Linked DNA regions of Homo sapiens. The protein of the gene in region 2 interacts with the protein of the main gene of each other region in a biochemical or structural test. Each region holds a gene or a part of one and is shown on either strand. Other genes may lie near its edges.

What was found.
Region 1: the proteins of CTBP2 (region 2) and KLF3 form a complex in vitro, tested with the Homo sapiens proteins (one study listed by BioGRID).
Region 3: the proteins of CTBP2 (region 2) and KLF8 form a complex in vitro, tested with the Homo sapiens proteins (one study listed by BioGRID).
Region 4: the proteins of CTBP2 (region 2) and ZNF750 interact in far-western blotting, tested with the Homo sapiens proteins (one study listed by BioGRID).

The regions. Positions count from the first base shown.
Region 1 is NC_000004.12:38,674,195-38,681,218, reverse strand, and holds part of KLF3 (Krueppel-like factor 3), read right to left. Parts: intron 633-7,024; 5' UTR 594-632; coding exon 537-593; intron 1-536. UniProt on the Homo sapiens protein: Binds to the CACCC box of erythroid cell-expressed genes. May play a role in hematopoiesis.
Region 2 is NC_000010.11:125,150,556-125,157,579, reverse strand, and holds part of CTBP2 (C-terminal-binding protein 2), read left to right. Parts: intron 1-5,298; exon of another isoform or gene 5,299-5,374; intron 5,375-5,745; exon of another isoform or gene 5,746-5,806; intron 5,807-7,024. UniProt on the Homo sapiens protein: Corepressor targeting diverse transcription regulators. Functions in brown adipose tissue (BAT) differentiation. Isoform 2 probably acts as a scaffold for specialized synapses.
Region 3 is NC_000023.11:56,263,334-56,270,357, forward strand, and holds part of KLF8 (Krueppel-like factor 8), read left to right. Parts: intron 1-1,846; coding exon 1,847-2,411; exon of another isoform or gene 2,412-5,579; coding exon of another isoform or gene 5,580-5,620; exon of another isoform or gene 5,621-6,044; coding exon 6,045-6,156; intron 6,157-6,848; coding exon 6,849-6,988; intron 6,989-7,024. UniProt on the Homo sapiens protein: Transcriptional repressor and activator. Binds to CACCC-boxes promoter elements. Also binds the GT-box of cyclin D1 promoter and mediates cell cycle progression at G(1) phase as a downstream target of focal adhesion kinase (FAK).
Region 4 is NC_000017.11:82,837,012-82,845,029, reverse strand, and holds the start of ZNF750 (zinc finger protein 750), read left to right. Parts: upstream 1-5,007; 5' UTR 5,008-5,103; intron 5,104-8,018. UniProt on the Homo sapiens protein: Transcription factor involved in epidermis differentiation. Required for terminal epidermal differentiation: acts downstream of p63/TP63 and activates expression of late epidermal differentiation genes.

The DNA.
Region 1 (7,024 bases), on a different chromosome or scaffold from region 2:
TTAGGGGGACACCGGGCACGGGTCTTAAGGAAGCGCAGATCCCATTTAAAGGATCCACAGCTGCTAGGACAGTATTTAGCTCACTCATACCTGGTGGCGTTGAGAAAAGTTTGCCTATGAAATGCCTGTCAAGCAATGAGTGATTTTTTTTTTTTTTTTGAGACGGACTTTCGCTCTTGTTGCCCAGGCTGGAGTGCAATGGTGCGATCTCTGCTATCTCGGCTCACTGTAACCTACATCTCCCGGGTTCAAGCGACTCTCCTGCCTCAGCCTCCCGAGTAGCTGGGATTACAGGCATGTGCCACCACGCCCGGCTAATTTGGTATTTTTAGTAGAGACGGGGTTTCTTCATGTTGGTCAGGCTGGTCTCAAACTCCCGACCTCAGGTGATCCTCCCGCCTCGGTCTCCCAAAGTGCTGGGATTACAGGCGTGAGCCACCACGCCCGGCCATGATTTCAAGGAATAATTCAACACACAATAATGTTATCATCACTTGGAAAAAATAAGGCGAGGTGTTCAATCTTGGAAAACTTACCACTGAGACAGGGTCCATGGCCTCTTGCTTGACAGGAACTGGGTCAAACATGAGCATTCTTTTAGTTAAACCTTCTAGGGTGCTCTGGTGTTTGGCCTAGAAAACAAAACAAGGTATCCATCTAAGTCTCAAGGTTACTTTAAATACAAACTAGTAAAAATAAAATATAGCCTGGGCAAGGTGGCTCACCCCTGTAATCCCAGCACTTTGAGAGGCTGAGGCAGACGGATCGCCTGAGGTCAGGAGTTCAAGACCAGCCTGGCCAACATGGTGAAACCCCGTCTCCACTAAAAATGCAAAAATTAGCTGGGCGTGATGGCACTCGTCTATAATCCCAGCTACTCGGAAGGCTGAGGCAGGAGAATCGCTTGAACCCAGGAGGCGGAGGTTGCAGTGAGCCGAAATGGCACCGCTGCACTCCAGCCTGGGTGATGGAGCGAGGCACTACCTCAAAAAAAAAACATAAATAAATAAATAATAAAATGAAATATAATACCTCACCCCACTTCTCTACTCCTTTTTCTCCCCTACCCCTGGAATGGCTGGAATTTGTTTCCCTTACCTATGAAAGATGCCATTTACATAATTAAAACCAGACTCCATGGTCATAACCAGATGAGAGCCAACCAGCATTTCTAACTCAATACAGAAACCCTGACTTTTCTGGAACACTATGTACAGCCCCTTCTGAGCGCCAAAGCTTGCTTGGGATTGCCGTGCAACTCTTTAGGGGTTCAGATTACATATGACCGTTAAACACCTTCCCTTTTCCCCGATGTTGGTCGCAGAAAAATTAGGGGAAAAAAAGACGAGCAAAAAGAAAACCTAGAACCAACCATCATTAAAATTTCATTTTTATTCTAACAAACCCTCTTTAAAACTGGGCTCATAGTGTACATGGTATTTAGTACCTATCATTTCACTGAACAATTTATGTGAAAATGTTTCTTTTACAGTAAGTATGGTTCTGCACCAAGTATGGTTCTGCACCATCAAATCCCCCGTGCCACTGTGTGAACACATCAGTTTACTTAACTTCTTCCTCTTTATTAGGCACTTAGGGTTGCTTCTAAGTTTTCGCCATTACGAACAGCAATGAGCCTCTTTAAATATATCCTCCTGCACACCATTAATTTTTAGGATAAGTTTTCTGTAGGGGAATTCCTGGGTGAGAAGTATATACATTTCCCAAAGCGCCTGATGCCATCACCTGGCAAAGACGAACTATTATTTTCATTAATAAAATACAACCTGTTTCCCCAAACCTCCACCAGCAACATGTGTTATCACTTGTGTTATAAAAGATAAACACCTTGCCAACTTGTTAAGTCTCAAGATGGCAAATGATTTTTATTCTAAATTGATTTGGTTATTGAAGTTATTTTTTTTCAGCTCTATTGACCATTTGGATTTCTTCTTTTGAGAAATGCCTACTTAGGGCTTGACAGCCTCCACCACTTCTTATTGTTTTCTAAGCACTTTTCACATATGAAGAATATTAGCTTGTTTTCACTCAGATTTCTCCTCATTAGGAAATGAGCCTATTGTAAAGGAAATGTCCACCTTGATCCTGTCCTGTCTTTTTCTTCTGTTGTTCTCTGCTTGCCATCCCTTCTATTTTCTTCTGTGTTCTGTACAGTCCACTTCTAACACTAATCTACATCAAGCCAACTGCTTCTTCACAGGACAAAATATTCAGTCTGCTCAATGTTCAAATGTGTCTCCTCAGTTACAGAAACACTGTCCTGCTACTAGACACACTTTCAGAAATCGACTTCAGGCACTCATTAGCCAAATTTGGTTTAAGTGCTCAGTGCTTTGGTTAGAGGTAAGGTCTTCATAGATCACCCTGGTTTGAGTGGCAAAGTGAACAAGTTCTAGAGTGAGTTCCAGCTGAAGAAGCTGCAGGAATCCCGGGTTCTGGATTCCTTCTTGTATTTCAGTGTTAAAAACCCCCATCCCCACCTCCATGATAGCAATCCTATAATTTGTTGTGTTGGTGCTCTACGGGTTATACTAAGATATCTTCATATACAATGATGGAAGTGATACTATGTCGTTCTTGTGCTTCGTTGATTCATTGAAGAAAGCCTGTTTTGAATCTCATGACAACACACGAATTTCATCAATAACTCGACATAAGGCCTTGACTTCAAAATTATATTTTCCTCCATCACAGGGTGTATTGTAATCTGCAAACACAATTTGATACCAAGCTGCTCAAATCAATAGTGCTACTACCCTCTTATGTATTCCAGCAAGAACTAACCGCAACAGCCAGTGAAAAATAGATGATTTCGTAATGAGGGATGAAAACGCTTTTGTGTCTTGGGATCTATTATTAAGCAGTTCCCAGACTAGCAGCTGTACGGATGAACATGGTTCTAAGAATTGTTGTCCAGTGCCTCACAGTGGACCATAAACAAAAGATGTGAGATCTCCTGCTTACATCAATGAGGTCAGATCATTTAGCAGCCCTGACTCACGGCTGGTCACCCTGTGGCAGCCTCCCACCTCCTCACCCCCAGCTTTTTACACTGAATTCACTCTTCCAGACTCATCTATCCCACTAGAGAGTATCTTGATGCAAATGCTTCTAAATTAAAGCATTCACATTCTCAGGTGTATAAGGAAGGAGCCATGGTTTTGAGACTCAAGCAGGCTGCAAACTAACGCAGCCATGGGGCAAGAGTGATCATTTGTAAAATGCAGAGCATGGCTCCCTATCTGCTTCTCAAGGATTTAGGTCTATCAAGTGAGATTAAAACACACACACACACACACACACACACACACACACACACTCCTTTTGCCCTCATTTATATCCATATGCACATAAAATCTGGATGTATATTCTGTACACACAACACTAAATGTGTTGGTTCCAACTTCCGGAGCAAAAATGTCTGGCGTTTGCCTCTTTGCTAACATACACTAGCCTTAGAGGTCTATCCCCCACCCTTAAATAAAACTCTGACTAGATTCAGTTTCAAAGTTAACAGCTGCCTACATCCTGTATGAGGTCTCATATAAGGCCTTGTCACTTCACAACTGTACCACTGCAACAACAGCTTCTGAGCGAGGCCAGCATCTCCCCACTTCATGTCATCCTGCACGCTTTACGACCACTAATTGCAGCACAGCAGAATAAATTAAGATGATGGGCTCTGGAGTTCCTTTTCGTTCAAATTCTAAGTCTACCATTTAGCTCACATAGCTTTCAATGACTTTGTCTAATGCCCACAGCAACGACTACTGAATCCTTTTAGAAATGAATTACACATTAATGTGCTACATCTTTTTATCATTAAGACATTATTTAAATCACTATTGTTCTTTAATTTTTTGTTTTATCTAAGTTTAAGGAAATGCAAGACTTGTAATCCTAAGAGAAACATAGTCTAGTATAAAACGCTGGCACTGACTGGGCGTGGTGGCTCATGCCTGTAATTCCAGCACTTTGGGAGGCCGAGGCGGGTGGATCACTGAGGATAGGAGATTGAGACCAGCCTTGCCGACGTGGTGAAACCCCGTTTCTACTAAACATACAACAAATTAGCCAGGTGTGGTGGCGCACACCTGCAATCCCAGCTATTCGGGAGGCTGAGGCAGTATAATCGCTTGAACCCAGCAGGCGGAGGTTGCAGTGAGCCCAAATAGCACCACTGCACTCAGCTTGGGCAACAAAAGCGAAACTCTGGTCTCAAAAAAAAAAAAAAAAAAAAACACACTGGCACTAACAGAACCTGATTTGCTTTTACTAAAAAATAATTACAAGGGTATGTTTATTTGCCCAGAAATGTACCTCAAAGTAATCCAAATGTTGATGAAGGGATGTTCTCATTACAGAAGTATTTAAGTTAATAAACAAAGAAGGAATGATAGGATTAGAATACCTATTTTTGAAATTCCTAACTAAATAATGCATCCCTGGACATTAAAAAAAAAGTCCGTGCAAAATTCAAATATCACAAAGAATAGAATCAAACTCACTATTTCACATGTCTACAAGCACTTTGTTTCCAATTTGGTAGCTTCTGATAATAGCTTTTAAATGATGATGCTTTTAGTGATAGTCACAGGATATAAAACAAGAAGATAAAGGACATGCAAAGAAAACGTCTGGAACCACACACCCGAAACTGTTAACAGGAGCTTCTTGGGAGTGGCGGTGGGTGGGACAGCTTTCTACACATCTGTGTTCTATTTTTAAAGTTTATTATTTATATGTATTTTTATTTTGAGATGGAGTCCCACTCTGTCACCCAGGCTGGAGTGCAGTGGAACGATCTCGGCTCACTGCAACCTCTGCCTCCTGGGTTCAAGGGATTCTTCTGCCTCAGCCTCCAGAGTAGCTGGGATTACAGGCATGCACCACCACTCCTGGCTTAGTTTTATACTTTTAGTAGAGACGGGGTTTCACCATGTTGGCTAGGCTGGTCTCGAACTCCTGACCTCAAGTGATCTGCCTGCCTCAGCCTCCCAAAGTGCTGGGATTACAGGTGTAAGCCACTACACCCGGCCAAGTTTATTATTTCCATAATCAAAACTTTTAACAAAGACAAGATAGGGAAGCCAAGCTAGGAAGGAACTAAATTTAGAAACAGAATCAAACACATGAACAGAAATGAGGCTTCTGTTTATGTATTTGCAAAAAATTTCTATACTTTGCACCCATATCTCTGACTACAGGGACCACTTTTGTCATTGGTACTAATTTGTTTACAGGTTCTGATCTACAATCATAAAAGAGTGACTGTACAGTCTTCAAAGTGCCTTCCACATAACTGAGAAGTAACTTAAGCCCTGGAAGAATTAGGGTCCCTAAACTTGGCAGTCTTTGGTACCCATGGGCGGCTCAGTGCACTGGGGTTATTACCATTCTGAAAGAATGCTAAGTAAACCACAAATGCTTAGAAAATCTATCATACAGTACTGACGGCAATCTGAAGCAGAACCAGTAGGTGGCGCACTAAAACAGGCATTAGAGACCAGGACACCGGCAGTAAATCAATCCAGTTGGCCAACCTCGGGGTCTTTAAACCTAGTGGGTTTTAACCAGGCTCAGGAATTCTATTAATCATTTTATGTGGGTATCACAGAGAAGAGGAGGCTCTAAATGTGGTTCTATTTTTTTCTGACGACTATTTTCCAATCATAAACACATTTACATCTTCATTATATTTAACTAGCTTAGCTAGCTTTAGAAATACATTAGCTAGTCTTAGAAATACATTCTAATGCTAAACTAAGCAATACCAGGATAACAAAACTGCATCCAAAAGGGGGGGGAAGGGCAAAATTGTTTTTATGAAAAATTCTAAGTTATTGAGGTGCTTAAAAGCAAAAATATACAGGAACATCACCACCGCCAAAATAATTTTCCATAACTGGAGCAAATGCCATCTTCCCCAGCTGTGTTATTTTGCAGAGAAAGGCCAATAAAAATGAATGGTCCTCAAAAAGGAGAAACAGATTTCCCTTCATGCTCTTTCCACCTGCACTTCTGACTTTTCAGATGTTAAAATAAGGGTCAAATTTCTGTCAAAATGCAAGACTGCGTGATTATAGATTAAAAGGGTTGGTGAATCATTGACATGAAGTTTCAGAAGTAATGCAGTCCTGCTTTGGAGCCCTATCCAGTGGTGTCTGAGACCTATGCACAATGGCTTTATGGAGTGGGGAGCGGGGCTGCAGGTGAGCTGCAGGGCTTAGAAACACACACACAGTCCTTCATGGAAGACGAGGTTAGGGGGTTACTAAACCTCCTCTGAAAGCAGCTTGCCTGGAGGCTAGAGCATGATTTATTACAGAAACGACCTTACAGACAACTGCCTGCCCCTTCCTGAGGGAGGAGGAAGGTGGAGAGAGAATGTGTACGTATCAGGAGCAGTTTCCTGTTTCTTGGGGTTAGAGCAAGACCTGCCTCTGACGTTCTCCCTTCTCATCTCCCTATTTCTTCCTTTCTCCATGCCCTCATTTCTTCCCACAGATCCTCAAAGGGTGCCTGCATTATCTTCCCCAACCCAGGACTGACCCCGAGGCTCCAAATCACCTGCCTTCCTCCAAGCAAACTTCCGTCTCCCAGCTGACCTCGGCTAGGCATACGGAGCAATACACTAACACACCATCGCTAAGCCTCCCTTTCAACTCTTCTAAGTTTTTGGATTTTTCAAAGAGAAAACATGTTATCTTCCCCTACCCTTACTCCCCAAAGGAACTTAAGGCAAAAAAAGAAAAAAAAAAAAGGCGGTGTGTGCATGTGTGTGTGTAATTCTTGGCTAGGAAAACTGGGCAGGCAAGCAACATCCCTGTAGCTAAACTTCCTTTCCAGAGAAACTTTTCTCTCTTCGTTTCTTTACCCAAATTCTTCAAAATCCCCCAATGGCTCAAGTATTATTTAAGGACAGTTGCCCTAGCCAGAAATACAGGGGACAGGCAACAGATGTCAGCAGGCATTTTTAAGCTGGAGGCTCCCTGAAACAAAG
Region 2 (7,024 bases):
TTTTGTGCCCCAGGGGTAGGGGACCCCAGTTACATCCCTGTGGAAAGCAGTTATTAGAGGGAATTAAAAGATCTTGGGTTTGGAGCTTGTTTTGAACCTGACTAGGTGGTTTGGGTTTAATTCTTTTTCCTGTTCAGAAAGATAAGGTAAAGAATACCGACTCCCCCCCGCTCTTTTTTTTTTTTTAACCCCCACCTGACAACCCCCTCTCTAATTGTACCTTAATAAGAGTCTGCAGGTTGAATGCAGAACCCTGTGAGTTATTTACGGTTTCGCCTGGGAGCTTTGAAACTGACCCTTGAATGGGTGTTCTCCTGCGGGGAGGGGCAGGGTGAATTACCTTTTCTTAACTGATTTTAAAAAGCCTCATTGTCCCTAAAAATCATTTCCTTGCACGAGTTGCAATTTATGTGTGGAACTGAATCATCAATTCCGTGAAGAGAAAGATATTCGTAAAGTACATCTCTCTAAAGTTAAGAAAGTAAGAACGTTTGGCTAGTTAAAAACAAACACTACTGCCATTGTAAAAAACACGCCAGTGACATACTTGGTGAGATATTTTGGCCTTTTGAGAGTCGGGGCACACCTGTTCCTGTCCCTGCCAAGTTGTGTGTGCTTTCCCTGCCATTGTTAATCTGGTCGTGTACACAAGATGAAACGGTAAAACTTGCTATCTGTATAATTATTAACTAGTTTGTCAGTTACCCTTTCAGAGAATAATCAATAACTTCAGTCTTAACTTTTAAAACTCCAGAAATTTTACTTTTTAAGTCTGGAAAATGTTTCAAAGAGAGATTAAATGAAACAAACAAACAGCAACAACAAACAACAAAACCAGAAAATCAACCTACAACTTTTTAGTTTCTGAGTAGCCAGCTACAAGGCAAAGAAATGATGAATATATATAGTATGTACTGAACAAGCAGTGCACTGGATTTTAAAATGATATTTTTATTGTTACCATTGCTGTTAAAATACAAACAGCTCACACTATTTGAAATCCTTGAGATTCACGGATTGAAAAAAAACCGAAAAGGACACCTCTGAGTGAGGGAGTAGCCCTGCTGAGATCTAGCACCAGAATGCCATTTGCCAACAGTTCACTAACATCATGAATCATTTTTGAAAGCAAAGTTATACCCTTTGCACTTAACGCTTTCCCTAAATGGAAAAAATTTAAAGAGTTTACAGCAATGGTAGAATGGCAGCCCCAGTTGTCATTTTTTTACCACTGTCATTTCCATAGAGAGGGGCTGTCATCATAATGTATGTGCATGCAGCCTGGGTCCCTCTGTTAATCTATCAGGGAAAAGCAGCAGCCCTAGTGTCCTGTGGCCCTGAATCAGGCCACAAATATATATTCATACAGCACATGGTTGGGAAGGGAAATTTATCAGTTGGGCAGGGCACAGCTCAGGTAATATTTCCACTTTGGGATGGTAGGTCTGTTACACAGGGTGGAACATATTTTTGTAGTAACTAAAAAATGGGAGGGCAGTGTGTCTGTCCCTGGAAAAAGAAGTATTTGTACTTAATGGAAGTGACCCATGTGGTGAAATCTCGGGGTGTCTTTTCCCCAGCAATCTTTCTATGAATTGCTAGGGGAGGAATGCTTGTGTGAACTTACCCTGCTGAAAACTTTTAGTGGGCACATGAAATGCTGGAATGGATACACTTTTAGAGACTGTGCGGCCTGGCAGATATCAGTTTTCTCCCTTACAGCTGGTAAGCATGTCTTAATTTACGCTGCTGCAAGTTAAAGTTACAGCACTCCTGGAAAGAAGGGAAAATGCAAGGCTTCTCCTCCCCACCTCATCTTTTGAAGTTAATTTTCATTCAAGTCTGTGTTTGATGGAATATGTATCAAAGACTTATGAAAGAGTTTTTTTTTTTTTAATCCTATCTTGGGGTTTGGAAAATTATATTTAATAATTGCTAAAAACTTAAGAACCATTTTAAAGGTGTTCAGTGGCCCTTTTGATCATGATTTAATGGAGAGTATCCAAAAGCCATCAGTGTGACTCTAATGATATTCACAAATTAATGTTTGGGCATAATCTGGAGTTTGCTTTTAGCTATCATTATTAATGTTTAAAGCCTAAATTATGGCTGCACTTGGGCATTCAGAACTTCGCCTGTGAAAAGAAGGGCTTTGCACATTGTGTAAAAAAAAAAAGGGGGGATTCACAAATGAATACAGAATGTACAATAGGGAGAGAGCCAGGCCATTGTTTGTGTGGAATGTTGACCATGGGAGCCAAGGGCTAGTTTCGCCTTCATTCTTCTGACTGCTGGAGAACACAGAAACTTCAGGAGCTGTGGACGGGATGGGAACCAGGGGCACATTCATCCGTCTTTGCCGGGCATGGAGATTTGGCCTGCCCCCTTTCCAGAGTTTTTCTTAGAAGGTGGTCTTTTCTGGACTGCTAAGGAACGTCGTGTGCTTTCTCTTCTCAGTAATCTGCTTTTTTGAGGAACGATTTTAACGGCAGATAGTAAGAGTTCCTCAAGGAAAGTAAACAGACCTTTTCTACCCCCTCGAAATGTGATTTTAGGAAATGATATTCAACTTCAGAAAGGAGGCATCTTAAGTCACAGGAGGAAGTTGTGTTTATTTTTACTCCTCTCCTGACTTTAAAGTAGTTTTTAATCTGTTGGTAGCATTAGGGAGAATGCAGCTAAAATAAGTTTTTGCTGGATGTTCATGTTTTGCGTAGCTGCTGCCATTTCGGAAAAAGCTCCTCCCCCATTCACAAAGCCCTTCTCCTTCCACGTGGGAGCCGAGGTCCCAAAGTGGAACCAACTCTGTAGCTTAAGGGAGGTGCATTCCTGGCCCCTCACTTTCTAACCCTCACCTTAAGTGGAATATGTAGATAATATGTAGATCATTAACCATTGTTGGTGTCTGAAGCCTGTTCAGTTTTTTTAGCAACGACACTCGGTGAGAACCAGTTGTAGTTTGCATGTGTATATGCCTAGTCCCTCCCTCAGTGAATGTTTTAGAAAGTGATCTGCTTTAGCTGTTTACCTAACTAAATTTAACAGATGGTTGCCTAGAGTTGGCTTAATATTCACAAAAATTGTGATGAAATGGTTGGGATCTTATGAATGGGACAAGTGATGATTTTGTTTCTATAGAGAATTGTGACTTTTGTCCTAGGTAATAATAGAGACTTCGTTTTTCCCAAAGATCGGTTGGTGTTTAAAGGATGGGAACCCTGAATAGCTGCTGTTGTCTGCCCCTGATCCTGGTGGTGGCCAGCCTTGCCTTTGGTTTTGTTGCCTTCTGTGAGTCCAGAAAAGCCCTGGAGGCAGGGGTGAGGGGGGAGAGGGAGGGCTGGGCTTTTCATCCGTGGGGTTCTAAAAATCCTTCTCATTTATAAAATACAAAAATACTTACCTTCCATTGTATTGCTGATTTGTGCTTCCTCCAAAGCTCTCCTCTGATCAGCAGAAATGTGCTTCTTGCATTAAAACAAATCCTTAATTATGACTAAAAGAAACTGTCAGCTGCCTTAAAGATTGTCTGGAAATAGTGGCAATATTTCTGTGTCTCATTCCAGCCCACGTTGTGGCAGAAGCCTGGAAGGGCCACGTTAAAGGATGTGTCACAGAGACAGTGTGTGTAGGTCTTCCTGCAGCACAAGCAAGCTCAGGGCTTGTAAAGTCCAGCTTATCGTGGCTGTGCTCCAGCCATGCCTGAAATCTGGCCTCCAGCAATCTGTCCCGTCCCAGGACAAACAAAAACTTTATTATGGAGTCATGGAACCTGAGGAAGTTTCTCTGGAAGGAACCGAAGACCTAGACCGTGGAGGGAGATCAACTCCTCTGGCCTAATGGGGCTTTTCTTTTTCCAAGATGGAATTTAAAAATCTCATCTATAAAATGAGGCTAGCAAAGAATCATTTTATGGTGTAAGTGGCCAGAATCTAACCTGGAAGTGATAGTATTGTACCTGCCGCAGGTGTGTGTGTGGCAGCGGGAGGGTGGAGAGGGGAAATGAGAGGAGAAGAGTTTGGAGGGGAAAACAGAGCATTCGAGGTTTCTCTGCTGGAGGGGGTGAAAGGCCAGGAGTTTGTGCACCTTTCCTTTTAAATGAGCTCTAGCTGTGAGTTTATTATTTTGCTGATGGATGGTCTTTCGTGCAGTCTAGAAGTGCAAACACAGTCGGCTTATCCGCTGCTTGTTCAGGTCCAGGGAGACCAAGGGAACGGGTGGGGGCAGTGCTTGCAAATCCATCTGGATCCTGGACACCCCACTTGGTGTTGCTGCAGCCAGCTCCCAGGCCTGCCCACCTGGAGTACAGCCAGCGCCAGCAGCGGGCAGGGCCCGAGAGAGCTCTTAAAGCCATGTCCCAGGAACGGTTGAGGGAACTGAGAATGTTCAGCCTGGAGTGGAGACACCCCTGGGAAGCCCAACATTGTCCTCTGTGCGGTCATGTGGCCTTACTCTGCTCGGAACAGGGAGGCCTTGCTGTTGGAGCTGCCGGGCCAGATGGGCTGCGTGGGCTCCTGGCACAGGCAGAACTTGGCTGACCATTGGCTCCCAGTGCCAGCCAAGGCTCTGCAAACACCCGAGACCCTGATGGAGACTCAGGCTTTGGGAGCACCTCCTAATGAGCTGGGGAGGATACTGTGTTTTCTTCCCAGTGGGGGGTGACCAATAATCTTAAAGTTTTTTCCCTTTCTCCAGACGTTCAGCTGTGGTCCGCACTCTGGATTGCTCTATCTGCCCTGCGGACTGGATAGAGGCTCAGCGTAGATGCCCAGCTGACCTGACATTTCCTACCCATATTTCCTAGTGTTTCAGGAGCAGGCAGAGACAGACCTGATTCCTTTATCTCGGGGCTTTCAGATTACGGAATAGAAGTCACACTAGGAGGGCAATCAATAAAGAGTATATTTTGCTGTACAGATACCAATATGCACATATAAGTGCCTACAAGTAAAATCTGGGAATGTTTTTGATCTTAAAAACATTTCACAGTCATTAATCTTCACGACGCTCCTGCGGGCTGGGTAAATAGAGCAATTCCTATTTTATGCCAGGAAGAAATATTGAATTGCCTCCCCCAAGTCATAAAGAGGCTGTTTTTCCTCCTTGTTCCTGTGACTCGCGGTGTGGGGGGCCTGGGGCGCCTGGAACCCCTGCGATCCGCTCAGACTGACTCCAGGACGACTTCCGGTGTCCTGCGCGACCTTCTGTTGCGGGGAGCGCCAGTCCGCCACACCTGGCCGCGCTCTACCTGGAGGGGGCGGGGTCTCCTGCATTTCCCGGACCGCGGGGGTGCCCCACCCTGCTGCAAGGACGGGCCTCCTGGCGTCCGGGCTTCTGGGGTCCCGGGGTCCCGGGGTTCCTGGCTCCCGAGCCCCAGGTGAAGCCCCCTCCATCCCTGGGGTTCGCCCCTCTCCTCCCGGCGGGTGGACCTGGAGGCCCCGCCCCCGCGGGCCAGAACACCTGGCGGCGCGGCCCCGCCCCAGCTGTGCCCTCTTCCCCCCGCAGGGCACTTGGCGGCCCCACCCTGGCCCCTCCGCGGGCCGCGGTATCTGACACCCCCGGGCCCCCCCACCTCGCGCCTCGCCTTTACACTTGTAAATGGAGCCGCTTCCCGCCGCGGGGAAGTCGTTGAGAGGTGTGAGAATGGGCCCTGCCCCCTCCCCCCGCTCCGTGCCCACTTCCTCCTTCCTCCCGCTGGCCTTTGTGCTGGGCGGGGCCGCTCGGACCCGGGGCGGCGGGGGTCCAGCTAGACGCCGCCTCAAGCCAGCAGGGTCGCCGGCCCCTCTCCGGTCCGCGAGGCCCCGGCAAGGTAGGAGCCTCGAGACCACGCGGGACACCAGGTTGGCCCCCAGCCCGCACTCGAGGCTCAGAGCAGGGGCGGGGACCTGGTTGCACCAGGCCAGAGCCGCCTCCACCCCGCAGCGGTCGCGGACTCCGGGCACTCATGGGGACTCCTGGGGTCGTGGTGAGTGGTGAGGTTCGTTGATTGACTGCGCGATGGTGGCTGAGTTGCAAGCAAACGGTAAACAGCGGCATCATTTCCACTTGACCGGCTTGGGATCTCGTCTCCTGGGCAGTGTTTGGGGGTGACCACGGTTCTTGGATAACCTTCGAATCTGGGTGTTTTCCTTGTAGTACAAATAGCGCAGTGGCAGTTGCTGTGGGAAACAGCGAGGGCCACTGAGACCTTCAGCAGAACTCCACGTCGAGGACGAGTGACATTTGCGCGCCTCTGCTGCGTTCTCTGCTGTTCACCCCGGCGGCTCCCAACACCTGAAGCCTGGCGAGGCATGTGACTAGAGGTTGTCCGAGCGCAGAGTGGTAGGACGGTGCGATCTGGCCCGTTTCGTCTTGCCCTCGTCTTCTCCATGGAGGAATTTCTGTGTTCGCCTCTATGTTTTGCAGACTTAATTTGGTGCTCCAGAAACTTATGCAGCCATTCAAGTGCGCTCTACCTGTTATTCAAGTAACTAGAGAGCAACCATTTCTTGAGCACTTACTTAGTGTCTGGCACTAGCTCGCTGGGCCATTGTGTGTTGTTGCGTTGCCCTGACTCTTCATTGGTAAAACAGTGACTAACTATCACCTGTGCCTCTGCGAGGACAGCGCTGTGCTTGGCCAGGGCTGGAGAGCCGATCTCAAGGCAGGTGTCTGGCCTTTTCCTGGACATAGTGAGTCTGTGATCCAGAGTCTGACCCACGTATTCAACGGGGCCTGCCTCAGGCTTCCAAACAGGAGCCAGGCTGTTGTGAATATTCACTCCAAAAGTGCAGTGAATGTAAAACATCCTAGAGCAGGAAGTGAGGCAGGCCCCGTTGAATACGTGGGTCAGACTCTGGATCACAGACTCACTATGTCCGGGAAAAGGCCAGACACCTGCCTTGAGATCGGCTCTCCAGCCCTGGCCAAGCACAGCGCTGTCCTCGCAGAGGCACAGGTGATAGTTAGTCACTGTTTTACCAATGAAGAGTCAGGGCCAGGGAGCTTAGGTAATTAAGTCTGGCTAGTTACTACCAACTTCGCCTGG
Region 3 (7,024 bases), on a different chromosome or scaffold from region 2:
GGGCTGAGTTGGGATAGGTGCTGGCAAATCAAGAAACCAAGAGTGTTGTAGCATAAAAGAAGGGAAAAGAAGATGGCAGTCTGGCCAAATTCTGGAGACAAAGCACGGATGGGTTTTTGGTGCCGTTACTCATTCCCAGCCTGCTCTGAGCATTGTTGTCATGTGTTTTTGACGCAGAGTCTTGCTCTGTCACCCAGACTGGAGTGCAGTGGTGTGATTATAGATCACTGCAGCGCTCTGAGGGTTTTTAAAATAAAGTCAGAGCAAGAAGACACTGCCTCCCCTGCCACTTATTGCTCTCTGAATTCAGACCCTTATTATCTCTCACCTAAATTTTAAAAAATCATAAGCATAACATAATTATCACACCTTAAAATTAACTAATTCATTAATATTGTCCAATATCCAGTCAATACTCAAATATTTTTACATGTCTCATCGAGATTTTTCCACTTGCTTTCTTTTGAATGTCTTTGAATCTAGTTTTATTCCTCTTTCAATCAATCTTCATTAAGAAGCTAGTTAAATCTCACAGAAATAGTTCTTCCCTTGTTACTCCTCTCTTCCAAACAATTATCTTCTATCACCCAACCTTTCATTGAACTCTACCTTTCCTCATCTTCCAAATATACAAAACTAAAAGTGGTTATGTTTTATATAAAGGATGTATTCCTTAACATTTTTCATAATTTAAAACTCCCATAATTCAAGTATCATGCTGATAGATAATGGAAGCTTGTTTGTTTACTGGCTAAAGAGGTGGTACCACCATCTCCAAAATCATCTTCAAGATCCAGAGTGTTGCTTGGCAGTGGCATACACAGTTCATTATATCCTTGACCTTTGAATTCATGGAATTCTTAGAAAGTTTTTAATTAGGTTGAGGCTTTATTTCATATATTACATATAAATGATCATTTATTAGTTTTTTAAAAAAAGTATTAGTTTTTTATTAAAAACTATTAGTTTTTTAAACTAATAAATGTATTTATTAGTTTTTTAAACTAATGTATTTATTGGTTTTTTAAACTAATAAATGTATTTATTGGTTTTTTAAACTAATAAATGTATTTATTGGTTTTTTAAACTAATAAATTGGTTTTTTAAACTAATAAATTTATTTATTAGTTTAAATCATTTATGATCATTTAGATCATTTATTAGTTTTTTTTAAAAATCCCAGAATTAAAAAGTTGCAGAGTTCAATTTTGCATATAATACAACTAACTGTATTGCAAGTTTATTTCATAGTTTATTCTATAATTATACTGTCTGTTGTTATGGCTCTATAGACAGGAATATCTTTCTTATCTCTTATCTGCCTAGAAAATTTCTATTAATTTTCTATGACTCAGCTGAAATATCACCTCCTCCTTGAAGCCTTCCCTTTCTAGTCAGAATGAGTCATTCCCTTTTGTTTTTCTAAAACGCCTTGCTTGTATGCCTGTTACATTATTTATTATGGTATGATTTATAAACTATTCACATTATTCTATCATTATATTTAATATGTTGGTATGTACTTATTGGCTGTACTTTATTGATGTGTGCTGCCACTGAGCTTATAGTAGATGCTCAGAAAGTGTTGACTTTAAATAATTTTGCAAGATTATTGTGAACGTTAAATGAAATAATTTTTAACAATTGCCGGATACAGTACCTGGTACTTACAGATAGTAAAGTTTCCCGTCTGTTTTTCTCTTTAGTTTACTCCTGCCTTATTTCTCCCAGCACCATGTATTCCTTCCATGTGAAATGAATAGAGATTTCTTTTTTACATTGCTTGCATGTCTCTTCAGGGTACTAACACTGACTTATGCATCTCTCATTTGTTTATTTATTTAAGGTCACTGCTTCTGTTCGGAACAGAGATCCCCCTGAGATAGAATACAGAAGTAATATGACTTCTCCAACACTCCTGGATGCCAACCCCATGGAGAACCCAGCACTGTTTAATGACATCAAGATTGAGCCCCCAGAAGAACTTTTGGCTAGTGATTTCAGCCTGCCCCAAGTGGAACCAGTTGACCTCTCCTTTCACAAGCCCAAGGCTCCTCTCCAGCCTGCTAGCATGCTACAAGCTCCAATACGTCCCCCCAAGCCACAGTCTTCTCCCCAGACCCTTGTGGTGTCCACGTCAACATCTGACATGAGCACTTCAGCAAACATTCCTACTGTTCTGACCCCAGGCTCTGTCCTGACCTCCTCTCAGAGCACTGGTAGCCAGCAGATCTTACATGTCATTCACACTATCCCCTCAGTCAGTCTGCCAAATAAGATGGGTGGCCTGAAGACCATCCCAGTGGTAGTGCAGTCTCTGCCCATGGTGTATACTACTTTGCCTGCAGATGGGGGCCCTGCAGCCATTACAGTCCCACTCATTGGAGGAGATGGTAAAAATGCTGGATCAGGTAAGTAACAATATTGCCTCTTTCCTGGCCTTCCTGAATCTATTCCCTTTTAGAGTCATCCTATCTCCTGTCTCTTTTCACTTCCTCCAATTATTCTTGCACACTGCTTCAAGAGTAATCTTTCAAAAGTACTGTTTTTTATGTCTTTTTAATGCTTAAGAATGTACAATGAGTCTTGATTAGACCATGCTTCTCAAACAAGTACAAGTATGCATATCTATCAGTGACATATCAAACAACTTCCTGGAACTTCCACATTATTTGATATTAAATAATTTAAGCATTTTATATTTAAAATATGATTATCTTGTATTACAAAATGCAAAATTTAAAAACCTGTTAAGATAAACCACATGCTTCAAAAATAGTTGAAGCTTACTAAAGGCATCCACCCTCGGACTTTTCAGGAGAATGTGTTTATTTTATGCCATTCAGAATGCTTTGGTGGGAAAGTTGAGAACAATATTTCTATCTCAAACATACTTAGCCAGTATTAGCTCCTGCCTCTACCAATACTTTCCCTTTTCTCTTCCCTACAAAAGAAGTAATTGAAATATTGTCATCTTCCCTGTGTTCTTCCTCATTTGGCATCTATCACTTTCCATTTTACTTATTTATTTGCCTGTATCACAAGAGTTTGGGCATTATTCACAACTGAATTGTAAATTCCTGAAAAATAATACTCTATCTTAATTTTTTTATGTATGCCTCCAGAGAACTTAACACAGTGCTAGGAGTTGTCTTGCAACAGATAATTTGATGAACAAACAAACTTGAAAATTTGTCCAAGAGAGAATTCAAATGCTATAATCTTCCATTTTATTTTATTTTTAAAATAAGTTCAGAATTCAGAAAGGTATAAATTAAGTCTCTCTTCCACCACTATCCCCCAACCACTAGTTTTCCTCCCAGAGGTATATCTGTTTTAGTTTGTAATCAGGAATGATCAAGGAAAATTATGTGGCCTCTAAAGCAGGCTGATAATGTTTTGCATAAATCGGAAAGGCCAAGGGGTGGAAATGACTAGGAAGCAGATTTCAGCTTACTGTAAAAGAGTATCTACCCTTGAAATTTGATGCCCTGTACTAAATGTAGGAGGCTGAAAAACAACATACTACTAAGCATCAAGTTGCTGAGACTCTGCACTGGTCTTCTGAATACAAATATTATTATTGACTAGTGGTTAATTGTGGTAATGATAAGTGTTCATAATCTTATTTTGAGATGTGATATCCATTCCATATATGAAGGGAGAGCCAAACAAACAAACCAAAAAAAGGAAACAAACAAAAAAGGAAATAAAATTCCTCGTGTGACAGTTTATGCTGAGATAAAGGCAGTGGTAACATCAAAGGATGGTTTGAAGGAGCTTTGAATAGTCCCCATAATATCATCAGTCCATCAGAGCCACTCTAAATAAACAGGATAAATTTTAAATGTGCTCAATGTGGTTCCAAGCTAAGGGCATTGGCCCAATGGTGTCTGTATTAGTTCGTTTTCATGCTGCTGATAAAGACATACTCGAGACTGGGAAGAAAAAGAGGTTTAATTGGACTTACAGTTCCACATAGCTGGGGAGGCCTCAGAATCATGGTGGGAGGCAAAAGGCACTTCTTACATGGTGGCAGCAAGAGAAAAGGAAGAAAGAATAGCGGAAAGCCCTGATAAACCCATCAGATCTCATGAGACTTATTCACTATCATGAGAATAGCAGGGGAAAACTGGCCACCATGATTCAATTAACTCCTCCTGGGTCCCTCCCACAACATGTGGAAATTCTGAGAGATACAATTCAAGTTGAGATTTGGGTGGGGGCACAGCCAAACCACATCAGTATCCAAAATGGGGGGCTTACTAAACCTTAGGGGGCACATATAAAACAATTGGAGTGCAAGAAGAAAGTATCAAAATTTGTATTTTCTTACCCTTAAAAATTGACAGGTAATATTGTATGTTTTAATCATCTATAGCATGATGTTTTGAAGTACATATGCATTGTGGAATGGTTAAATCTAGCTAAATAATAAATGCATTACCTCATTATCATTTTTGTGGTGAGAGCACTTAATGTCCATTCTCTTTACAATTTTAATAAATAAAATGTATCATCATTAACTATACTTGCCTTGCTATACAATAGATCTCTTGAAATGTATTCCTCCTATCTAGCTATAATTACGTATCCTTTGACCAATATCTCCCCATCCCCCTCCCCACTAGCCACCCCAGCCTCTGGTAACTACCATTCTACTCTACTTGCATGAGATTAACTTTTTTAGATTCCACATATGAGTGAGATCATGCACTATTTGTCCTTCTGTGCCTGGCATATTTCACTTAACATAATGTCCTCCAGGTTCATCTATGCTCTCACAAATGGCAGGATTTTATTCTTTGTTATAACTGAATAATATTATATTGTATATATATATATGTCACATTTCATTTATTCATTCATTTGTTGATAGATATTTTAGGTTGGTTCCACATCTTGGCTGTTGTGAATAATGCTGCACTAAACAGGGATGCAGTTATCTTTTGGGCATGTGATTTTATTTCCTTTGGATATATACCCAGAAGGGAGATTGCCAGATCATACGGTAGTTCTAATTTTAAGTTTTTGAGGAACCTCCATACTATTTTCCATAAAGGCTATAACTAGTTTACATTCCCATCAACAGTGTGTAAGTGTTCCCTTTTCTCCACATACTCACCAGCACTTACTGTCTTTTGTCTTTTCGATAATAGTCACTCTAACTTAAGTGAGATGACATACTACTTTTTGTTTGTTTTCTTATAATGTATACAAAATTGTAGGATACCGATACATGTATATCACATACATGCACAAACATGCACACCTCAAGATACATGCTTAAAACTTTTTAGTGAATGATATGCAAAGTATAGAGACAACTCTTTTAACCAAATACTTGTTCCCCACCTTATCACCACCCCCAAGTTTCTTCTCTATAGAAATTTTGAAGGTTTCACTGGATCTAGGAGACTGTTGACCACCTGATTGAGTTTTTAGGAATTAGAAACATCAGGGGTTGATAATAAGGAATATTTGACAGCTTCTCCCAACATAGGTGGAAAGGAAGGTTGTATCAAGCACCTACTAGGTGGTAGGTATACGTTTCATCTCATTGACTTATTTCTGTTTAGGAGCACAAAGGCCAAGGTGGATGTTCTCACATCTGGACTAATCCTAGAATTTGATTTTAGGACAGCCAGGAGCTATTCAGTGAGTTCAATTCAACACACACACACACACACACACGTTGAAACTAACTTTTCAGCTGACCCTGTCCTGGTAGCTGGAGATAGAAAGATGAATCATACCCAGACCACATCCTAGAGACACTCTCATTTGATACCACTCATAGTGGTATCAGAACTCTTCATACTACTCTTACTTTAAAGGCATTTCTGTTCCCTGCTATGCAAAAAAAAAAAATAAAATGTTATTCTCTTCCTTCCATGCAAATACACTTCTTTCATCTTGTTTTTTATTTCTTTATTTTTCTGTCTTGCTGCCACTTCTTAAGGTGGGACAAACTGGGAATCCTGAAAATGATTAAAGAGGCACATACATCTTCAGCTCACACTGCTCCCTTTCTTTGCTTTTAGTGAAAGTTGACCCCACCTCCATGTCTCCACTGGAAATTCCAAGTGACAGTGAGGAGAGTACAATTGAGAGTGGATCCTCAGCCTTGCAGAGTCTGCAGGGACTACAGCAAGAGTGAGTACTTTTTGTCTTCAAGTCTGTCTTTGTGTATGTGTGTGTGTGTGTGTGTGTGTACATTTGCACATATGTATAGGTGGAACTAATGATCAGACACAAGAGTAAGAATTTGAGGACAAGAAATATAGGGAGACTGCCTTTCCAGTGAAAGTATATGAGTTTGTGTGCACACATGTGCATGTACATGCATGCTATAGTAGAGCTATGTTCTAACTGTAGATCATCAATTTTTCTTTTGAAAAATCTTCAAATTTCCCATAAAGTGTAGTTATGTACTGTTTCTCTCTGTAAGTTTAAAACAGCTTTGTCTTTCAATATTGAAACTAATTGGAAGTAGTTGGCTTGTGTTTAGCAACAACTGTTGTATGAAAAACAAATTTCTTTAAGCAGGAAAATGAAACTTATTGAAGTGAAATGCTCACACTGTTTGGGAACACAACCACTGAAGGAAACACTACCACCTCCCATGCTTTCTCTGAGCACCTACTGAGGGACCTGTACCTACTGAGCAGAATGGCCTAGTTGACAGAATTGTTTTTACTATTCCAATTATTTCTTTTTGGGGGGACCTAGCATTAAATTCACGTAAATTAAAAGCCGATATGATGTGGCACCAATGAATGTAAATTCATTTTTTTAGCCTTCACTTTAAAGTCACTGTTTGGCTTTATCTCTATTTCTTTGATCAGACCAGCAGCAATGGCCCAAATGCAGGGAGAAGAGTCGCTTGACTTGAAGAGAAGACGGATTCACCAATGTGACTTTGCAGGATGCAGCAAAGTGTACACCAAAAGCTCTCACCTGAAAGCTCACCGCAGAATCCATACAGGTCTGCCCACTCCCATCTCACCCCCAACACACACAC
Region 4 (8,018 bases), on a different chromosome or scaffold from region 2:
AGGTACCCCTCCTTCCCCACCCAGGGAAGCACCCCCCACCTCTGGTGTAACTCTGCTCATCGCCCTCTGGGCTGGGTACCTCGGCCATGTTCCCGACCTGTGGGTGGGGGGACTCCACAGGCCAGGTGCGTGGTGCTTCTGAGTAAATGGACCAGTGCAGGTGATGCACCTGGCACGGTGCCCCACACCATCAACACGCAAGAAACATCAGCTGCCACCCCCATGACGGTTCCTAAGATTTGGTCAAAAACCTAATCGCAAGAATTCTGAGTAACACAGGGGGTTGAACATGTAAAAAATAGCGGGTAAAATCCCACTAAAAACAGCAGAAACGGACCATTTTCTTTTTTCAAGAAATAAGCTACAGGGTAGAAGAGGAAGGGCAGGGAAGGCAGCACCAGGACCACGGAGGAGCCTGGAAGTGCAGGGACAGCAGGAAATGCCTCAGACCAAGAAGCCCAGCCCTCCCCTGGAGGGAGGCAACTCAGACTCCCCCTGATCCACAGGACAGGTCCCTAAAAAGCTCCAGATCTGTGGCACCAGAGAACTCTGTGGGGAGGGGCAGGGTAGGCCTAACCCAAGGAGCACTGGGGCAGGAGACAGGGCTGACTCTCCGAGGTGCTCAGCAGAGGCCCTGGAAGGCAGGCAGCCACACTGACGATGCAGGGAGGGCACCAGGCATGGCATGGCGCTCCTGCAGTCCCAGCTACCCGGGAGGCTGAGGCAGGAGAAGCACTTGAGACCCGGAGTTCAAGTCCAGCCTGGGTAACACAGCAAGACCCCAGGTCTTTAAACACACACACACACACACACACACACACACGGAGAACATCCACCCCCACTCCTCCACTCCCCACTAAAAGAAAGCTATCACTAAAATCCTTAGATAAGAAAAGCTACTGAAAGTACTGCATGAGAATGAGATGCTACAAAAGGAACACTCAGAACAAAACAGAGCTCATGGAAACCAAAATCAGAAACCAAGTACTTAACAGAAGTGTTGAAATATAAAGTTAAGAAAACTAAGACTACTGAGGATAAAGGAAAGAACCTGCAGGTGAGAAACAGCTGTCCATAAAAATCAGGAATCACTACTGACATAAAATTCTACAACACATAAAACTAATCCATGGTGGAAAAGTATCAGCCTGCAGTTGCCACGGTCTGGGTGGGGAAGGGTGGCACTGCTGTGACGGAACTCTCTGGGGCCATAATGGGAGAACACATTTGTCAAAACTCGTTAAATGATCCTCTTAAGACCTGTGCCCTTCACTGAATGTAAACCTTACCTTTGAAAGAAGAATCATAAACTAATAAGAATATGCCTGAAAAGTGTTTGGGGCAAAGCATACTGATGTCTGCAACTGACCTGAAATGCAGCAAGACGATTAAGCTGGATGGGGAGGGGAAGGGAAGGGTAAGTAAGCTGGACGGGGAGGGGAAGGGAAGGGTAAGTAAGCTGGACGGGGAGGGGAAGGGAAGGGTAAGTAAGCTGGATGGTGAGGGGAAGGGAAGGGTAAGTAAGCTGGATGGTGAGGGGAAGGGAAGGGTAAGTAAGCTGGACGGGGAGGGGAAGGGAAGGGTATGTAAGCTGGATGGGGAGGGGAAAGGAAGGGTATATAAGCTGGACGGGGAGGGGAAGGGAATGATAAGTAAGCTGGACGGCGAGGGGAAGGGAAGGGTATGTAAGCTGGACGGGGAGGGGAGGGGAGGGGAAGGGAAGGGTAAGTAAGCTGGACAGGGAGGGGAAGGGAAGGGAACACAGACAGCTGTGTTAACTGGAGAACCCCACCGTTGGGCATATGAGAGTTCACTGGAGCATCCTTACAACTTGTCTGTATTTTGAAAATTTTCACACTAAAATGTTAAGAGAGAAAGAATCAGGAATCAGAATGGCATCAAGGTTCTCAACCACAGTACTAGAAGCTAGAGAAAATAGAGAACACTTGCGGCCGGGTGTGGTGGCTCACACCTGTAATCCTAGCACTTTGGGAGGCCGAGGCGGGCGGATCACGAGGTCAGGAGATCGAGACCATCCTGGCTAACACGGTGAAACCCCGTCTCTACTAAAAATACAAAAAATCAGCCGGACGTGGTGGAGGGCGCCTGTAGTCCCAGCTACTTGGGAGGCTGAGGCAAGAGAATGGCGTGAACATGGGAGGTGGAGTTTGCAGTGAGCCGAGATCGCGCCACTGCACTCCAGCCTGGGTGACAGAGCGAGATTCCATCTCAAAAAAAAAAAAAAAAAAGAAAGAAAGAAAATGAAGAACACTTGCAAAAATCTGAAGGTAAATGATTTCTGGCCTGAAATTCTAGACTCAGCCAAACTATCAGTGAGGTTGAAGAGTAGATAAAAACATTTTCAATAATTCAAGACCTCCAAAAAAATCTCTCTTGCACTTTCTCAAGAGCCTATAAAAGGTGTGTGCCTCATGTCAAACTAAATGATTAACTCAAGAGAAAGACGACATGGGATCCGAGCAGCAGGCCTTCCAGTGCAAGAGAGAGGCAGGCAAAACCCCCTGGGTGACGGGGAAGGCAGACATGGGGGCAGAAGGGGCAAAGAGAGGCAAATTCCCATCTTCCATGAAGGGAAGCCACCAAACAACACCTCGACCAGGAGTGGAGAAGGGAGAGAGGGGGAGAGAGGGCACAGAACCACCAACAGATCAGTAAGGCTGGAATCGAGGAGGTAAACACCCAGCCAGGCGCTGGGATAAGCTCCCTCCCTGCCGTCTCAGCTCCCAAGGAGGACCAGGGACAGAGACTCTCAGGAGCAGGGTAGAGGGTGGAAGGTACACAGATTCTCAAAGGCCTCACTGGACCCTCCATGGCAAGGGTCAGAACACTCAGCTTAGGAAAGGCCAAGGTGGGGCTTCCGGGCAGAGGGAGTCGTAGCGCAGACACCTGGCACTCCTGCCGCTGAGAGGTGGAGCCCTCGGCTCCCGCCTTGCATCTGGGCAGCACGAGGCTGCCTCAGCAGAGAAAGGTGACAGAAGGGACACCCTGACAATCTGCGGCCCAGCCTTCTGGAGGACTGGAACCTTCCGCCTTGCTCTCTTGAAGTCCTGAGCCATCATACAGCTGACCACCCTGCTAGGGAGGCCTCTGAAGTGCTACTAAGTGAGGATGAGGTTCCAGCTGATCTCAGGATTCCAGCTGCCCCTCCAGGACAGAAGGCAGGTGAGTAAAGCTGTCCTGGACCCTCCAGACCAGTCACCTGCCAGCTTTCTCCCACGGAGCCACCTCAGTCAGTGTCCATGAAACAGAAGCAGCACTCGGCCAGGCCCTCCACAAACTCCTGACACAATATATCCTAAGACGTAATAAAACGGTGCTTGTTTTAAGCCACTAAGTTTGGGATAGTTTGCTATCCAGGAATAGGTAAGAGGGACAGGGAACTGCTGTTTTTTGTCATAAGACTTACATAACTCTTTTTGACTTCATAAAGTATATGGATGTCTCAATGGACAAAAGCCACCAAAAAAAATTTTAAGGTATTAAACCATCCTAGGAAACATGGCAAAACCCTGTCTCTACAAAAAATTCTCCAGGCATAGTGACCGTGCCTGTAGTCCCAGCTACTGGGGAGACTGAGGCGGGAGGATCACTCGAGTCCAGGAGGTTGAGGCTACAGTGAACCGTGATCGCACCACTGCACTCCAGCTTGGGTGACAGGGCAAGACCCTGTCTCAAAAGAAAAAAAAAAGGAATTAAATATAAAAGTAAACGCAAAGCCATGTAAAATCTTAAGTCTTAAGGAAAAAAATAACAAAAACAAAAAAACAGACCGGGTGCAGTGGCTCACACCTGTAATCCAAGCACTTTGGGAGGCCGACGTGGGTGGATCACAAGGTCAGGAGATCAAGACCATCCTGGCTAACACGGTGAAACCCCATCTCTACTAAAAATACAAAAAATTAGCCGGGCGTGGTGGCAGGCGCCTGTAGTCCCAGCTACTCGGGAGGCTGAGGCAGGAGAAACGCAGTGAGCCAAGATCATGCCATTGCACTCCAGCCTGGGCAGCAACAGTGAAACTCTGTCTCAAAAAAAAAAAAAAAAAAAAAAAAAAAAACCAGTTTGTCTGTCCTGGCCAGCTCGTCCCTATGCCACAGCCCTGCAGCCTCTGCCCTGCAGCCTCAGGCTCATCCAAGGGCCTGACACCAGCTCATCCCACCTCCTTTCCCAGTCCTCAAACCGACACCACATGCCAGCCTTCGCTACAACTGGGGTGCGGCCTCCGATTAAGCAAGCAAGCAGTTTTGGTGGGGGGGTGTGGAGGTAAAAACTGGCCCCCAAGTTAAGTGCCTCTGCAATTTAAAGTGGGGGGAGGGTGGTTTGCGGGAGTGCACAGCTGGCCCCCTCCCCCGCACCCACACACCCTGCTCCGCAGCTCTTGCGGTGCCTGGTGTCGGGCAAGCTCCGGCAGGTCCCTGCAGCCAGGCTCTGGGATAAGCTCCCTCCCTGCCGGCTCAGCTCCTGAGGAGGACCAGGGACAGAGACTCTCAGGAGCAGGGTAGAGGGTGGAAGGTCCACAGATCCTCAAAGGCCTCACTGGACCTCATGGCAAGGACGCCATGAATACTGTGCCTCCCAGGGTATGCGCGCTTGAGAATCAATCCAAGTGTTTGCCTCCTGCGTACACATGCTCAAGTTCTAAAGGAAAGTCTCACATGTCTTTATCATGACGCCAAATATTCATCGGGTGTGATTCTGATGAATATAGTAATCTCTATTCTAACTGCGGACACATCGAAAGCCCTCTGACATATGGCCGTCCAGGCAGCACCGACGCCGCACTCACAGACAGTTGAGTCTGGAGACAGCGCTGGGAGTCGGCGAGATAACTTGCTTGCTGGGTCCAGTGCTGGGGAGGCTGCCCGCAGCAGCTCGGTGGGTGCAAACACATGAATCGTAGCTGCGGGCAGGAGGAATATCAGGTGCATCTCTACGCCCCGAGGGCTCAACTCCTACACTTAAATCCCTCCCACTGGAACAGCAGGCTCCAGTTTCACCCAGCAAGCGTGAGAACAGGTACTGCTTCCTGAGCACCGCCAGCCACCGGCACCAAGACCGGCCACATCCCAGCACTGCCCACCTCTGGTAAGTACTCACTATTTCTTTTCAAATTCAAGTTTTATTTTAAAACTCTTCTCAGACGTATCTAAAATACCCAGCTGAACGCAGCGTTTGCTCCGTGTCTGCTCTGCCTTGCTCTGGGCTCCGAGGATTACTCAGGACCCAGCAGGTGCATGGCTGGGATGCAGACCACGATTACAAAACTTCTAATGAGGCTGACACTTTATTCTAAGAACATGAACAAGCTTATCTGGAAATTAACTCCTTGTTCTGCCCTAAAATTCATAAAAGTTAAACCAACACAAATTCATATTATTGCTTAACTGCTCCTAACCTCAAAAACAAACTACAATAAATGCTAACAAGAGGTAAGGGTCATATATATATGTGTGGTGTATGTACATTAGGGTGAATTTAGGGTTATATGTGTGGTGTATGTACATTAGGGCTGAATTTAGGGTTATATATATGTGTGGTGTATGTACATTAGGCTGAATTTAGGGTTATATATGTGTGGTGTATGTACATTAGGGCTGAATTTAGGGTTATATATATGTGTGGTGTATGTACATTAGGCTGAATTTAGGGTTATATATATGTGTGTGTGGTATATGTACATTAGGCTGAATTTAGGGTTATATATGTGTGGTATAAGTACATCAGGCTGAATTTAGGGTTATATATATGTGTGGTGTATACACATTAGACACAGCTGAATTTAGGGTTATATGTTTGTGGTGTATGCACATTAGACAGTGCCGAATTTACTATCTAGTTTAACTTTTAATAGTTTTAAAGTTTAAAATAAGTACATAAGCTTACATGAAGTTTAAAATTGGGCATAAGCTTTCGAAAACAAAACCAAACCAAAGGGGTTAAGTTTCTGTTTGGTTGTTAAGGTCTTCTGTACATATAGACACAGATACAAAAGGGTTTTTTTCCTTATATGAAATTTCTCATAAACTTGATTTGGAGGAGAACAATTACTGACCAAGCACAGTCCGTCCACATCTGTGCCCCTAATTTTCACTGCGCATTAGCAAAGGCCTTCCAGCATTTCTGACCGGAGTTTCAGGATGAGGCGGCGACTGTAAAGTGGTGAGCGTTTGTTTACGAGCTCAGGTCTGTAACTCGGGATCTCCTGCCGAAACTAGAGTTAAGAGCCCCTGGTTGTTTTTCTGGATCCATTCTTCCAAATTACATTCCCAAAGACTGTCTTTTCCCCAGGTCTTGGTTGTCCTGAGGTTTATCTTTCATTTTAAAGAACCGAAAGGCTGGGAGGGAGTGGCAGTCAATCACTGGAAAAGCTCAATTGGAGTAAAACTCACAAATCTCGTTCTTGCGACATCACAGTGGGTAGGCGACAATGGTGTGTCCTTGAGTTATGCAACAACGCCACATCACAATATTGTAATTACAGCATGCCCTTCACAATGCTCCAGCCGAGCAGGCTCCTTGCCAGACAGCTGGACACCACCAAAAGGAACATTACAGCACAATCTCAGGGCACAGGTTAGGACGCATGACAAGCATAGTTACCCAGCCTGTCACAGAAACGTCCCATAAAGTTAAACTGTAATTACTTCCGCTGTGTCCTATCAAAGTTTTTTTTTTTAAGAACTCTTTCTCTTGTCTATTTTTCAAAGTTCAAACTCCTTAGAAGCTTGTTAAGCATCCCAACTTCTCACTATTACCCTAACAACTGTCTGCTGCATTAACTGTCCACACTTAGGAACCTTTGGAAAGACAGTATATTGGCAATTTAGACACAACCCCATGGCCAACCGAAACCACTCACTCTTCAAAGCACTGTCTGTGTGGGCAGCTACGCCCCAACACCCGGCCCAGTGCACGTTGAGCAGGAAGAGAAGCGAGCTCTCAGCTCAGCGCACTTTCCAGAAGCCAAGTGCATCGGCTGAGCACACAACATTTAAAATATTTAGAAAGGCACAGAGTGGCATCTGTAAATATGGCAAGAAAAGCCTGGTGAAAGCTCAGCTGGATCCTGAGCATGTTTGAAGCCACTGCACCCCACTGTTCTTACGCCCTTTAGTGTAGACACTGTCTACATTGGCTGCTTGATCTGAAATAACTTGGAGAAAGAAGGCTTTGTGCCAGGCCAGGCTCGGAGGAGGTGTGTTGGAGAAGAGGGCACACATTAGCCAGCAGCAGTCAGGGAAGACTCTGCATAAGTATTTCAGCAACAGCCACCTTTGATCCAGATCTGGAAGCTCTGTGGCATGTCCACCCTGCTAACGCTTCCTGCCGATCCAGTGGGAAATGAGAGGAGGATGAAACCCTCCTTCAGGATCACACCGAGGTCTTCACTGTAAAACACGCTAGCACTGCAGTTCTCAAATGAAAGCAGATAATGAATGAGACTCTGCTTTATTAACAGACAGACAGACAGCTCTCCGGGCATGTTATTAACTAAAATGGAAACACACCTCCCCCAGGAGAGAAAGACGCTCCGCACTTCTTTATCCCCTCTAGAGAAAAACTGCACCTCTAAATACAAATCCAAATTACTGTAAACAGCTAGATTTCTGGGTTACACTGTTTGGGCAACAACATACTCTTTTGGGAATATTTAACACCAGCAGCTGCCAGAGTACAAAGTCGGGCTGGTAGAAACTGACCACACAGAGACTATTTCAAACGCTGTGCCCACAGACAGCTGTGACAGCCTGAGGTACTGGCCGTCGGGTTTGGTTTCTTCATCCTTATAAACCTCACTTAAGCAGGACACAGAACTCACAGGCTGACATCATCATCATTTGAAAGCTTACCAAAGCAACAATGTTATCCCACTTACTTCTCTGACACTATTGTAGTTTTACAGATCAGGTGACCTACGCCCGGCTTACAACTGAAGCAGCTGTGCTCCCTGTTTTAATTAGCAAATTGTGCAAGCCTGAGAGGTCGGTTTATCCAAGGTT